Linked DNA regions of Homo sapiens. The protein of the gene in region 1 purifies or fractionates together with the protein of each later gene. This does not show direct contact. Each region holds a gene or a part of one and is shown on either strand. Other genes may lie near its edges.

Evidence for each region. Proteins that work in one complex are often made in the same cells at the same time.
Region 2: the proteins of DNAJB14 (region 1) and KHK purify together in Homo sapiens (affinity purification with mass spectrometry; 2 studies listed by BioGRID and IntAct, with this or other methods). This does not show direct contact.

What each region holds. Positions count from the first base shown.
Region 1 is NC_000004.12:99,908,613-99,915,640, reverse strand, and holds part of DNAJB14 (dnaJ homolog subfamily B member 14), read left to right. Parts: intron 1-6,744; coding exon 6,745-6,930; intron 6,931-7,028. UniProt on the Homo sapiens protein: Acts as a co-chaperone with HSPA8/Hsc70; required to promote protein folding and trafficking, prevent aggregation of client proteins, and promote unfolded proteins to endoplasmic reticulum-associated degradation (ERAD) pathway.
Region 2 is NC_000002.12:27,089,744-27,096,771, reverse strand, and holds part of KHK (ketohexokinase), read right to left. Parts: intron 4,441-7,028; coding exon 4,324-4,440; intron 2,299-4,323; coding exon of another isoform or gene 2,161-2,298; intron 1,973-2,160; coding exon 1,838-1,972; intron 44-1,837; coding exon 1-43. UniProt on the Homo sapiens protein: Catalyzes the phosphorylation of the ketose sugar fructose to fructose-1-phosphate.

The DNA of each region.
Region 1 (7,028 bases):
TCATAAGATAAACCTCCACTAATTTAAAATATTGAAATCATACAAGTATGTTCACTAACCACAGTGGAATCAAAGTGGAAATCAGTTACACAAAGGTAATAGGAAAACGTCCAGTCCTTGGAAACTGAACAACAAATTTCTAAGTATCCATGGGTCAAACAGGAAATATCAAAACAAATTTGAAAAAACATATTGATCTAACTTGGCCAGGCACAGTGGCTCACGCCTGTGATCCCAGCACTTTGGGAGGCCGAGGTGGGTGGATCGCAAGGTCAGGAATTTGAGACCATCTTGGCTAACACGATGAAACCCCATCTCTACTAAAAATACAAAAAAGTAGCCGGGCGTGGTGGCGGGCGCCTGTGGTCCCAGCTACTCGGGAGGCTGAGGCAGGAGAATGGCATGAACCTGGGAGGCGGAGCTCGCAGTGAACTAACTAAAAATGAAAATACAACAATTAAAATTTGAGAAGACCAGCTAAAGGAATGCTGAGAGGAAACTTGTAACATGAAATGCATATGTTAGAAAAGAAGAACAGCCTCAAATCAGTTATCTATGCTTCTACCTTACAAATCTAGAAAAAGAATAGCAAAATAAACTCAAAGCAAGCAAAAGAAATTATAAGAGTAGAAATCAGTACAATTGAAAAGAGTAACAATAGTGAATATCAATGAAACAGAGCTGGTTCTCTGAAAAAAATCAATAAAATTGAAAGACTGACCAAAAAAAGAAGACAGAAATGACCATTGTCAGAAATGGTGTCAGAGACAAGGATATCACTGCAGACATCAAACGGATAATAAGAGAATACTATGAACAATTCCATATACATAAGTTTACAAGTTAGATGAGATGGGCCAGTTAGTTGAAAAATACAAATCATCACAACTCAGTCTGACATAGATAACGTGAATAGCCCTGTAGAAATTGCTGTGGTTTGGGTATATTGAAATTTTTTAATTTTTATTTTTATTTTTTATTTTATATATATATTTTTATTATCCTTTAAGTTCTAGGGTACATGTGCACAACGTGCAGGTTTGTTACATATGTATACATGTGCCATGTTGGTGTGCTGCATCCGTTAACTCGTCATTTACATAAGGTATTTCTCCTAATGCTATCCCTCGCCACTCCCCCCACCCCACAACAGGCCCCAGTGTGTGATGTTCCCCTTCCTGCGTCCAAGGGTTCTCATTGTTCAATTCCCACCTATGAGTAAGAACATGCGGTGTTTGGTTTTTTGTCCTTGCGATAGTTTGCTGAGAATGATGGTTTCCAGCCTCATCCATGTCCCTAGAAAGGACATGAACTCATCATTTTTATGGCTGCATAGTATTCCATGGTGTATATGTGCCACATTTTCTTAATGCAGTCTATCATTGTTGGACATTTGGGTTGGTTCAGTATATTGAAATTTGATCCTCAATGTGGCAGTGTTGGGAGGTGTAGCCTAGTGGGAAGTGTTTGTGTTATGGGGGCAGATCCCTCATGAATGTCTTGCTGCTGTTCTCACAGTAGTAAGTTCTTGCTCTCTTGAGGCTAGATTAGTTCTTGAAGGAATTGATTATTTCCCGAATGAGTGGGTTGTTATAAAGCCAGGACACCCCTCAGGTTTTCCCCTCTTTGCACCTGTCTGCTTCCCCTTTGATTTTCTCCACCATGTTATGCAGCACAAAAGCCCTCACCAGAAGCCAAGGCTATGCCCACAAACTTTTCAGCCTATAGAACCATAAGCTAGTCTCAGGTATTTTTCTATAGCAACACAAAATGGACTAAGACAGAACTGTTCAGTGAATTAAAGTTGTAATTATGAAATTCCCAAAAAAGAAATATCCAGGCTCAGATGCTCTTATTGAAGAAGTCTACCAAACTTTTTAAGGAAGAATTAAAACTAATTCTACATAATCTCTTCCAGAAAATAGAAGAGGAAGAGACATTTTCCAGTTAATGTTAAGAAATGTTTTACCTTGCTTATATCAAAACCAAAGACATTACAGAAAAAAAAAAAAAAAAAAACTACAGACCAGTATACTTTGTGGGATAAACCCAAATGTCCTTAACAAAATATCAGAATTTTGCAGTATATAAAAAGAATTATATACCCCAAACAATAGAAGTTTATTTCAAGGTAGCAAAGTCAATTCACTATTTGAAGATCAATAAGTGTAATCCACCACATTAATTAAAGAAAAAAAATCCCACGATTATATTAATCAGTGGAATAAAAGCATTTGATACATTTCACCACCCATTCATGATAAAAACTGTCAGAAAAATAGCAATAGAAGGGACCTGCCTCAACTTGATAAAGAGCAACTACAGAACTCCTGTAAGCTAACATTAAATGGTGAAAGACTGAATGCTTTTCCCCTATGATCAAGAATAAAGCAAGAATATCTCTTTACCACTCATATTCAACAAAGTGCAGGAAGTAGTAATCACTGCGTTAAAGAGAGAAAAAGGAAATAAAAGGCATACAGACTGGAAAAGAAGAGCTAAAACTGTTGTTATGTGCAAATGACATGATTATCTATGTAGAAATCCAAGGAATCTACAGAAAAAACTGTGACTACAAAGCAAATCCCGTAAGATTGCAGGACACAATATAAATCTACAAAAAATTAATTGCATTTCTATTTACTAGCAATGAATATTTAGACACTAAAATTAATAATACATTAGCATTTACAATCATACATACAAAAAAATACTTAGGTGTAAGTTTAATAAAACTTTTATCACATTTATATACTGAAAGCTATACAATATTGATTAAAGAAATCAGAAAATAGCTAAATAAATGGACTGAAATATCATGTTCATGGATGGGAAGATTCAACATAGTAAAGATGTCAAGTCGGCTGGGCACGGTGACTCACACCTGTAATCCCAGCACTTTGGGAGGCCGAGGTGGGCAGATCACCTGAGATCGGGAGCTTTAGACCAGCCTGACCAACATGGAGAAACCCCATCTCTACTAAAAGTACAACATTAGCGAGGCGTGGTGGCGCATGCCTGTAATCCCAGCTACTCAGGAGGCTGAGGTAGGAGAATCACTTGAACCTGGGAGGTGGAGGTTGCAATGAGCCGAGATCGCGCCGTTGCGCTCCAGCCAGGACAACAAGAGCAAAACTCTGTCTTAAAAAAAAAAAAAAGTCAAGTCATCACAGATTGATATACAGATTTAACACAATTCCTGTCAAAATCCTAGCAGGATTTGTTTTGTAGATAGAAACAAGTTTTATTCTAAAATTCATATGAGGGGAAGAAAGAACCTGAATATTTAAAAACATTTATTTCTGTTAAAAGAATGTAGTTGGAGTAATCAGTGTTCCTGATTTCAGGATTTACTGTATAGATAAACAGTAAACAAAACTGCGTGGTAATGGCAGAGAGATACACACATAGATCAATAGAACGAGATAGGAAACCCAGAAATAGACTGATACCAATATAGCCAACTGTTTTTTGACAAAGATGCAAAAGCAGTTCGATGGAGGAAAGATAGCCTTTTCAACAGTTGGTTTTGAGGCAATTGGACACCCATAGGCCAAAAAATTAACCCTGACGAAAAGTATCATCCCTTATACACAAAATGAACTCGAAATAGATCATGAATGTAAATATAAAACATAACAATCAACAATAATGGGAGTCAATCTTTAGGATCTAGGGTGAGGCAATGATTTTTTAAGACTTAATCCCAAAAGCACAGTACATAAAAGGAAAAGTTGTTAAGTTGGACTTTAAGATTTTTTAAGCTTGCTCTGCCTTATTACGAGGATGAAAAGAAGCTCCAGGATGGAAAAAAAGATTTGCCAGGCACGTATTTGACAAAGGACAGGTATCTTGAATATATTAAATATAAAGAACTCCAAACACTCAAAAGTAAAATAACAGACAGTCCAATTAGAATGGGCAAAAAAATGAAGAGGCATTCCTTTGAAGATGATATACAGAGGGCAAATAAGCACAGTGAAAGATTTTCTCTGTCATTCATTAGTCATTAGAGAAATGCAAAGTAAAACCAAAATGGGATATCACTACACATTTATCAGAATGGCTAGAGTGAAAAATAATGACAATACCAAATGCTGGTATGGATGCAGGGAATGGATCACTCATACATTGTTAATGGGATATATAATGACACAGCTGTTCTGTACAACAGTTGGGCAGTTTCTCAAAAATCTGTGCAGCTACTATACAACCCAGCAATGCACTCCTGGGGATTTATTCCAGAGGAATGAAGATTTATGTTTACACCTAATCCTGTACATGAATATATATAGCAATTTTATTTGTAATAGCCAAAAACTAGAAAAAAACTAGATGTTATTCAGTGGTAAATGGTTAAACAGTGGTACATCCTTAACCATGGACTACTACTCACTAATAAAAAGAAATGAACTGTTGGCATATATGACAACCTGGATCTCCAGAGTATTATGATTTACAAAGCCAATCCCAAAAGGTTTCATTCCATTTATATATCATATAATATCCCATTTATATACTGTGTTATTTCATTAATATAATATTCTTGAAATGACAAAACTGTCAAAATGGAGAATAGATGAATGGTTGTCAGGGGTTGGGAAGGGAGGGAGGAGGAGTTGGATGTGGTTATGAAAGAGCAACATGAGAGTGGTGTTAGAAATGTTCTATATCCTGACTATATCAGTGTCAATATCCTGTTTGTGATATTGTAAGATAATTTTGCAAAATATTACTGTTGGGAAAAATTAGGGGAAAGGTACAGTGGATCTGTGTATTAAAAGTTTAAAGAAAAATAAATGAAGTGGAAGGTACCTTTTGGTGAAATAAGTGACAATGAGGTAGAAATGCGTTTTGTAAAACTTATGAATACCAAAATAAATTTAGGATATAATTATTTAGATAATAAGGAACTGCAAAAAAATCTTGATTATATGGGTATAGCACAAAGTAAATGAATAGAAATTTACTCTGGCCACAATATATAAATTGTCTTATGTGTACAATTATAGATTATGACAGTATTTCTCAAATACCATCTAAAATATCTTAATGTTTAGAAATTATTTTTTCTAAAAAAGGAAGCCTTAAAATAGAATTGGGTTGCCTATATATTAATAGTTTTAAAGTATTAAAACTATTAAAGTAGCATTATTGCATTACATGGGATAGCCCTTTTAGTTTATAGATGTTAAATCCTAAAATTGATATTGTTACTAAAAATACAATTTTAGCAGAGATTGATAGATATGCTTCTTTTTTTAGGTATGAGTTAATACCTTGATGTTGTTTGTAAGTACATTGTTTGGATCTTTGATTATACTTTCCCTTTGAAATAACTCATAAATGATGGCCACAGTTCTGAGTCACAGATTCTTTGAGAATCTGAAGAAAGTATCTCCTCAGATAGATGGATCATTCACCTAATTTTTCATTCAGCAGGGTATACTCACCATTTGAAAGCAATCTCTGAATCCCAGTTTTAAGAAGCTCGATTAGAAGAAAATATCCAGAGTATTGTATATAATTAATTTCAGTGTAATGTGTAATCATCCAAAAACAACTACCTAATGAGCATCTGTTTGCTTGTACAGTACCTATGGCAGCCACCACATGGGATCCAAAAACTATTTTTAAAATATTCTGTATTGCAAGAGGCTTACAATCTAGTTTAAGAAGCAAGATGTATTTATGAAGTGATTAACTATTAGAAGTGTCAGAGTACGAATAGGATAGTTCTTAGTTTTAGATTCAAAGCATTACAACTTGTAAATTGGTAAATTTGTAAATTTTAACAATTTTCTGGATTAGTTTCAGGTAGTCTTTTTTTTCAGCATGACATTAGTTTTTATGTGGGGCAGACTTTTATAATATAAAAACTTTGCTTACCTACTTTTACTCATTTCTTTTTCAGAGATTGGAAATGCTTATGCTGTTTTAAGTAAATTCTGGTAACCAGTGTAACATTACCTCTTTTGGATTTGGGACTGTGAGATGGGAAAGAGAATTCTTTTTTATAAATAAATGTTGTGAAGGTAGCAAAGTGAAATAGAAAAACTGAGGACTGTCTGTATTTATTTAAAAACTAATTCAGACTTTATGCTGGACCTTGGGGATATTGCCATGAAAACATAAACACAGTCCCTGTCTTTATGGAGTTTACTGTTTTAGGGGATAAATTGTTTGGGATAATAGAATGAAAAAATAGCTCATTCAGGCTCCAGGGTGCAAAAAAAGATTTTTGGTATGGGCTGCATAAAGAGAGTGTATTTATCGTGCTAAGAATAATTTGACTTTGCATGAGTTATTTAACCTTCTTGAATTTCAGGGCCCTCATTTGTAAAGTGAGGATAATAATGGACAATGTAATAAGGTATTGGGTGCAGAGCCTGGCAGTTCTTAGGTACTCAATAAATGATAGCTACTGCTATTGTTATTGGTTTAAACCACTTGAAGAATGGCTTAAGAGGCAGGATTTTAGGAGATGGAGCACAATATTAAAAAAGGAAGATGGATATTCCTTTGTTTTCAAGGCAGTAGAGAGACTTGTCTGGTATAAAAAGTTGTGTTGAGAGATAATATATGTAATTGCAAACAATGTATATCTTTAAAAGAACTTATTTTTAACAATTTTCTGGATAGTTTTAGGTAGTCTTTTTTTCAGCATGATGTTAGTTTTTATGTGGGGCAGCCTTTTATAATATAAAAACTTTGCTTACCAACTTTTACTCATTACTTTTTCAGAGATTGGAAATGCTTATGCTGTTTTAAGTAATCCAGAAAAGCGAAAACAGTATGACCTCACGGGCAATGAAGAACAAGCATGTAACCACCAAAACAATGGCAGATTTAATTTCCATAGAGGTTGTGAAGCTGATATAACTCCAGAAGACTTGTTTAATATATTTTTTGGGGGTGGATTTCCTTCAGGTATTTTAATGTAATTATAGATATTATATTTTATGAAGCTACATAGTCTTACCTCCAGTTAACGTTATTTAGAGATGTATCTACCTTTTCCCCTACAT
Region 2 (7,028 bases), on another chromosome or scaffold:
ATCAACCTTCTCAAAGTCTGTAGCAGACACATCTGGCAGGCTCCTAGGTCACAGGATGGAAAAGACAGAGAAGAAGGAGCATGATGGGGTCAGGCAGAGCCAGGATCTCTAACTGGCAGCTGTGGACCCTGTGCCTGCACTGCTGGCAGCATGACAGGAAGCTGGATCCACAGCACAGGATTCTCAGGCTCAGCTCCAGGGTTGTCCCTGTTACAGTCTGCTGGGGTGCCCTTTCCTGAGTTTGAGGTTGTGATTAAATTATCTCGGTAAACTGAACTGCAACACATGTCAACTGGCAAGGTCTGTGTGCCTTGGAGACTGCATCTCCCAGAATGCACTGAGAGCGCCAAGCCTACACTTCCCAGAATCCCTTGCAGCAGCACACGGCTCCCACAGGCAGAGCCCTGGGAAAGTATAAAGCCCGCGACCCCCTGCCTGGGCTGTCTGGTCCCCCTCACTTCTGGCGCCCCAGCGTTGGGGTTTACCTATGGCACCCCTGTCCTGCGTTTAATAGCTCCCCGTTGCAACCCTGAGGTCAAGGTAGCACTTGAGGAAGAGTTTGTGTTTGGCCGGTTTAGGAAAGGGGACTCCCGATAGAGGTCTGCCTTGACCCTCCTGAGCCAGAGACCTCAACTCAGCCAAAGTCCCCGCTCCACGTTCTGTAGCCGAGTCCTTCCACTTAACTATAGCTGTGTGATCTGCCCGGGCCTTTGGGAGGCAACTTCCACATTGATAAATGGGGCTGAAACCCCCAGCCCCCTTGCAGCCTGCTGCAGTTGCAGGTAATGTGTGTGAATGTGCCTGGACTGAGGCCAGTGGGCAAGAAACATTTCTCCTCAGAGCTCCTCTCCTGTAAATAGCTATGTTGTGTCCTTGATCAGGGTTACTACGGATTGTTGCTTAACAAGCATTTGACTAGGATTGCCCAATGCGAAGGTCACCTGTAGCACATATGCCTGCCTACTCACACTCACTGCACATATGAAGCCCAGGGATGGCTGCCCCTCCTCCAGGTCCGGCAGTCAGGCTGGGCCGTAGGAACAGCCTGAACCTGAGGGCTGCTGGGCTTGGGCCCTCTCAGCCATAACAGTACCTGGCACGTACTAGGTTCTTAGTACACTAAACCTCTAAAATCCTGCAGGAGGGAGTCTGCAAGGGATAAGAAGTGTCTAGGCCCATGGGGCCTCTCTTGAGTGGCCTGGGACCCTGAAGGGAGGGATAGCCCCTTCCCCCAGGTCAGCACCATGTTAGATGACCCTGATCTGCTGACCCCATGTTTCCTTTCCCCTCCTTCAGCAATGGCTGTGAATGGTGTGTGGCCTGGCTTCATCATGCTGGAAACTTTGGGGGGCTGATCTCTTTTACACACCCAAACCCCAGCTCCTTGGTGCCATGCTGCAGGCTGGCAACTCTGGGGCTGACTTTGGAAATCCCAGTGGGCACCCCCCCACAGCCCTTCTTAAGAAGGGTTGAATCCCATCTCCCACCCTTCTGTCCTGAGAACAGTTTCCCCGCACCCACAGCCAAGCTGCTGATTAACGATTTAATAATTATGGAGGAATCACTTAATAAATTACAGTTTATATAGGCCTGCCTGCCCTTCTTTGGTGTTGACCAAGGCCAAGTCACCAGGCACAGCAAAGCCCATCCCTTCCCACCTCACTTTTCCCCTAATTGAAAGCAATTAGGAAATCACTGGACATTTTGGCAGGGGAGCAACTTCTGGTACACAGAAGCCACAGAGGGGGGCAGTTGGGATGCCCATGGTGGCGAGTGAGGGAACTGATTGAGCCAACTGATTGGTGGGTTGTAGCAGGGCGAGGCCCGGGGGCCTTACGTGTCATGGAGCACAATGGTACGGTTGCCATTGGAGTTGTTGATGATGCAGCAGGAGCTGGGGGTGTCCCCCTTGCTCTGCCAGGCCACCTGAGACACGTCCACGCCCCGCCGCCTGAAGTCGGCCACCAGGAAGCTTAGGGTGGAGGCCGGGCCAGGAAAAGGGCAAGGAGACACAGATTAGAGCCTGGAAGTGGTCTGGACCTCCAAAAGGAGTGGGGAGAGGGTGCTGGAGCACACGAGCCTCTAAGAGAAGAAGAGTCCTGTTCTGGGAGTTTTGGTGGCGGCGGCAGCAGCTGGCAAGGCACAGACAGTTGTACAAACCTGTCATAGTATAGGATGGTGCGGCTACCACTGGCCTCGTTGATGATGACCGTGGCGATGGGGACGGAGCCTGTGGTCTGAAAGACTGTGTAGCGTAGGTCCACAGAATAGCGGCGGAGGTCATCCAGGACAAAACTGCTAGGGCGGAGTAACCCGAAGGGGGTGCAGTTCGACAAGGGTTTTGGGGACTGGAGGGTAGCTGGCAGGGCCACTAGGGACCCTGAAAGGCAGGGGTGCAAGCAAAGGGGGCTGGGAGAGAACTGGGAATCACAGTCTTGCCACAGGCAGTGCAACAGGGCAGGAGATGCAGGAGTGCAGAGCCTGGAGCTCAGAGAGAGAAACACTAAGGGCCATCCTTTTAGGTCTTGGCTGAAGCATGCTCCGATCCTGACTCTGTTTTTCAGTCCAACTCATGCTGGAAAGGATTTGCTCCTGTTCATAAAGCTAGACAGGACCCTAGAACCTGTACACTGTTTGAACCAAGCATGTGGGGGCACCGTGGCTTGTTTCCTGCAATGCCCAAACAGGATTAATAATTAATCTCCAAGGCAATACTTTGCCCCCAGCTGTCCTCCACAAGCTCATCCAGGGTGCTGTCCTCTCTCAGTCCCTCCCAGTCCTAATGCTGTGATTCCTCTCACTCTCTGCCTGCCTCCAGGAGGCCCAGCCTGGAAGTGGTGCTGCCTTGGTGAGCCAGCTCACTGCTTTGTCCTCCTGCAGCCAGGTGAACCCTCCTGGGCAATCAGCTGGCTCCCCGTGCCTGATGCCACTCAGTATGGGCCTGGTCCAGAACTCTCTCCTGGAATGCCCTCCATGCAGAGTGAGCCCAGGGGCAAGGACAAGGAGGTCAGCCCCAGCCCTTCCAGCCCTCTATGGACAGGCATTGTTCTGTGCTCAAGAACTGGCAATTATGCCCAGCAGTCCAGCCACCATCCTGGCTTTTCTCACCTGGCCAGAGCCCGCTTTCAGCAACACCAAAGCTGGATAATACAGATTTGCATAAAGATACCAAGTCAGGGCATCATCCCTTGACTTACAACTCCTTTAAATAGTAACTTTCCCAAAGCATTGGAAATATGGTTTGGTTTGCCAAATAACTTTCGCACCCCAGTGCCTGGGACATGGTAGGTGCTCTCTAAATGTTTGTCGAGCACATGGGGAGAATTCTGAATAAACCACCCATTGGCCTGATTGCTATGTAAAGGAGAGTCGACCATCCTAAGCCAGAGCCACAGTCCTGCCTCTAGCTCAGAGGAAAGGAGCTATTAAAGAGGTTTAATGAGTCACCAGCCCTTGGTTCTGAGCCGTCCTGTCCCATCTCACAGGGCAGATTCTCTCCCTCTATTCTCTTCCTGCCAGTTCATCAAGGCAGGGAGTTTGGCTGTAGCTCAGGTGGTTGGACTCTGCCAGCAGCCCCCTTCAAACCAGGGTTCAAAGGGCTGCCCTTCACAGGCCAGCAACCTGGCAGCCTGCCCCCGTGCCCACAGTGTGCAAAGTGTGGGCCTCACCTCCCGATAAGTGCTTGCTGAGTCGGCAGCGCCAGGGGTCAAAGGGCTCTGAGGTCCCTGCAGCAGCCAACATGGAGGGCGTGCATGAGCCATTTAGGGCTATAGCCCTGACAGCCGGGGAACTGGGAGGTGTGGGTTCTGAGCCCAGCTTTAGCATGTGGCTTCAGGGTGTCCTTGAACAGGGTACTCTCACTGCTTCAGTGAACAACAGGGACATGAGCACCAGCCCTGCCTCTCAACTGGGACAGAAACTGTGGGCCTGGACCTGGGGGAGGATGGGTACCACGTGTCCCTAACTGCCTTCTGCCTCAAGCATGGCCAGGATAAGGGACTTAAGATAAGGCAAAGGCACATCCACCGCAGAGTCTGCAGGAAGCAAGGAAGGAGAAAGGAAGAGGCTGAAGCAGGCTCCAGAAGTGTCCAGGAAACAAGCTGTGGCAAGGAAAGCTTCACAGGGGCAGCATCAGCCCCCGAACCGCAGAGAGGCCACGCCAAGGCAGGGCTGGGCGTCTGGTGCTCCGCCATGCCCCCTCCCCGCGTTTCTGCTGGACACAACCCATTTCTAATCCCCCATCCACCCAGGGTGGATACATCCTTCTTCTCCCACAATGATGCAGGCAGGCCTTCCCCAGTGGGCTCTCCCTCCTGGACTTACTCAGCAACATGGCCAGGAGCCATTGAGCCCATGAAGGCACAGGGGGCTCCGAGCAGGGAGAGAACGGTGCAGGAGTTGGACGCGTTGCCTCCGCGCTGCCATCTCTGGGACAAACACCTGCAAAGCACAGGGAGGGTCCCTGCAGCCCCAGCAGGCTGATCCCAAGCACAGTCTCCTGTATAGGGGCCTACAGAATGTAACAGCTGGGGACTCCTCTCAGAAAGCATCTAGGCCGACGTCTCACTTTGTACCCGGGGCAGCCGAGGCCGGCCAAGGGAAGGAGCTTGGCTGAGAGCGGTGTCTACCTCCCCAGCCCAGGCTAAATTCAAGCTGACAGCAGTTCCTTTCAATATTTCCATCTGTTCCTAGGGCAACAGGAAACCACTCACTTGGGTCCATCACTATTCGAGAGACCCACTAACTCCAGGTCATCTCCTCCTCACCTTTCACCCCAGTCAGAGCTGCTCCAGACGCTGCACCTTTGGCCTCCTCCTTGAGAGCTGGAGCAACTCCAAGGACCTCGGGGACTAAGTGCCTCTTCCCAAAGGTATCACATTTACACCTACCCCTGTGTTAGGAGTGTCTACTTCAATAGAAACTGCAGAGCTATAAAATCAAACGAGTAAGACAGGACAGCAAACCTGGACGTTGGTCGTTTAAGAAGTGGCAGCAGGGAGCACTTCTCCATCTTTACTAAAAACCAACCAAAAGGAAACTAACAAGACACACGTGAAGGGCTTCATTGTCATCAGCAGCAAAAATGATAACTTCCACATAGAGGGTCAACGCACTGATCCCCTCACAGTGTTACTGGAGCCCAAATGAGAAATCATTAATGAATGTTATTACCTTTGAGGTAAGAATGGTGGTGTTATTTCTATTGTGCCAGTTCCAATAATAATAATAATTGTGGCAGTTTACAATAAAAGGAACAGTACCAAAGAACCACGAATTAAGAGAAAAAACCGAACCAGAATTTTTAGGCCAAAGCATATTTGTACGCGAAACTTCAGTTTTGGGAAAAGGGGAGCACGATGTCATTAGAAAAAAAATGATAGTAGGACAGGCACAGTGGCTTATGCCTATAATCCCAGCACTTTGGGAGGCCAAAGCAGGAGGATCACTTGAGCCCAGAAGTTCGAGACCAGCCTGGGCAACCAAAGGGAGCTCTTGTCTCTAAAAAAAAAAAAAAAATTAAAAATTAGCTGGGTATGGTGGTGCATACCCGTGGTCCCAGCTACTCAGGAGGCTGAAGTTGGGGGAGCGTATGAGCCCGGGAGGTTTAGGCTGGGGTGAGCCATGATACTGCACTCCAGCCTGGGTGGCAGAGTGAGATCCTGTCTCAAAAACAACAATAACAACAATGACAAAGGATAGTAATTTTTTTGTTTTTTTGAGACAGAGTCACTCTGTCACCCAGGCTGGAGTGCAATGGCATGATCATGGTTCACTGCAGCCTCAACTTCCCCAGCTCAACTGATCCTCCCACCTTAGTCTCCCAAGTAGCTGGGATTATAGGTGTGCATCACCATGCCCCGCTAATTTAAAAAATTTTTTCGTAGAGATGGCATCTTCTTATGTTGCCCAGGCTGGTCCCGAACTCCTCGGCTCAAGCGATCCTCCTGCCTTGGCCTCCCAAAGTGCTGGGATTATAGGTATGAGCCACTGCACCCAGCTGGTCAAAGATTTTCAAGCTGGCCGGGCGCAGTGGCTCACGCCCATAATCTCAGCACTTTGGGAGGCTGAGGCGGGTGGATCACGAGGTCAGGAGTTCAAGACCAGCCTGGCCAAGATGTTGAAACCCTGTCTCTACTAAAAATACAAAAATGAGCCGGGTGTGGTGGCAGGTGCCTGTAATCCCTGCTACTCGGGAGGCTGAGGCAGGAGAATCTTTTGAACCCGGGAGGCAGAGGTTGCAGTGAGCCAAGATCATGCCACTGCACTCCAGCCTGGGTGACAGAGTAAGACTTTGTCTCCAAAAAAAAAAAAAAAAAAAGAAAGAAAAAAGAAAAAAAAGATTTTCAAGCTGAGCTTTACAGCTTTACAGAAATTTTTACGAAAAGATATGAAAAAAAAGGAGGAATCTCGAGGGATCTGACTTGATCAATAGTTAAGGACAAAGCTGATGTGGGAACCCAATTTCCTGACCCCAAAGCCATTGCTAATTACTCCGTATTTTAAAACTAAAAGTTGTTAGGCCCAAGCATTGAGGTTTCTAAGAAAGGATATAGAATTTTACTCTGGGGAAACCCTTCAAAGTCACACTGATATTTCCTGTGCAGAAATGCTCAGCTAAAGGCTGGGCGCGGTGGCTCACGCCTGTAATCCCAGCACTTTGGGAGGCTGAGGCAGGCGGATCGCCTGACGTCGGGAGTTCGAGACCATCCTGACCAACATGGAGAAACCCCATCTCTACTGAAAGTACAAAATTAGTTGGGTGTGGTGGCACATGCCTGTAATCCCAGCTACTCGGGATGCTGAGGCAGGAGAATTGCTTGAACTCTGGAGGCGGAGGTTGCAGTGAGCCAAGATCGCACCATTGCACTCCAGCCTGGGCAACAAGAGCAAAACTCCAACTCAAAAAATAAAAAAAAGGACACGTCCCAGGGGTCTGGCTGAGCTCCAGGTGGCGGCTCCCAAGAGTCCCCAACTGCCTGTCAAGCACAGAGACCCTAGGACAGGTGGGGCTGAGACACCCAGGAAGG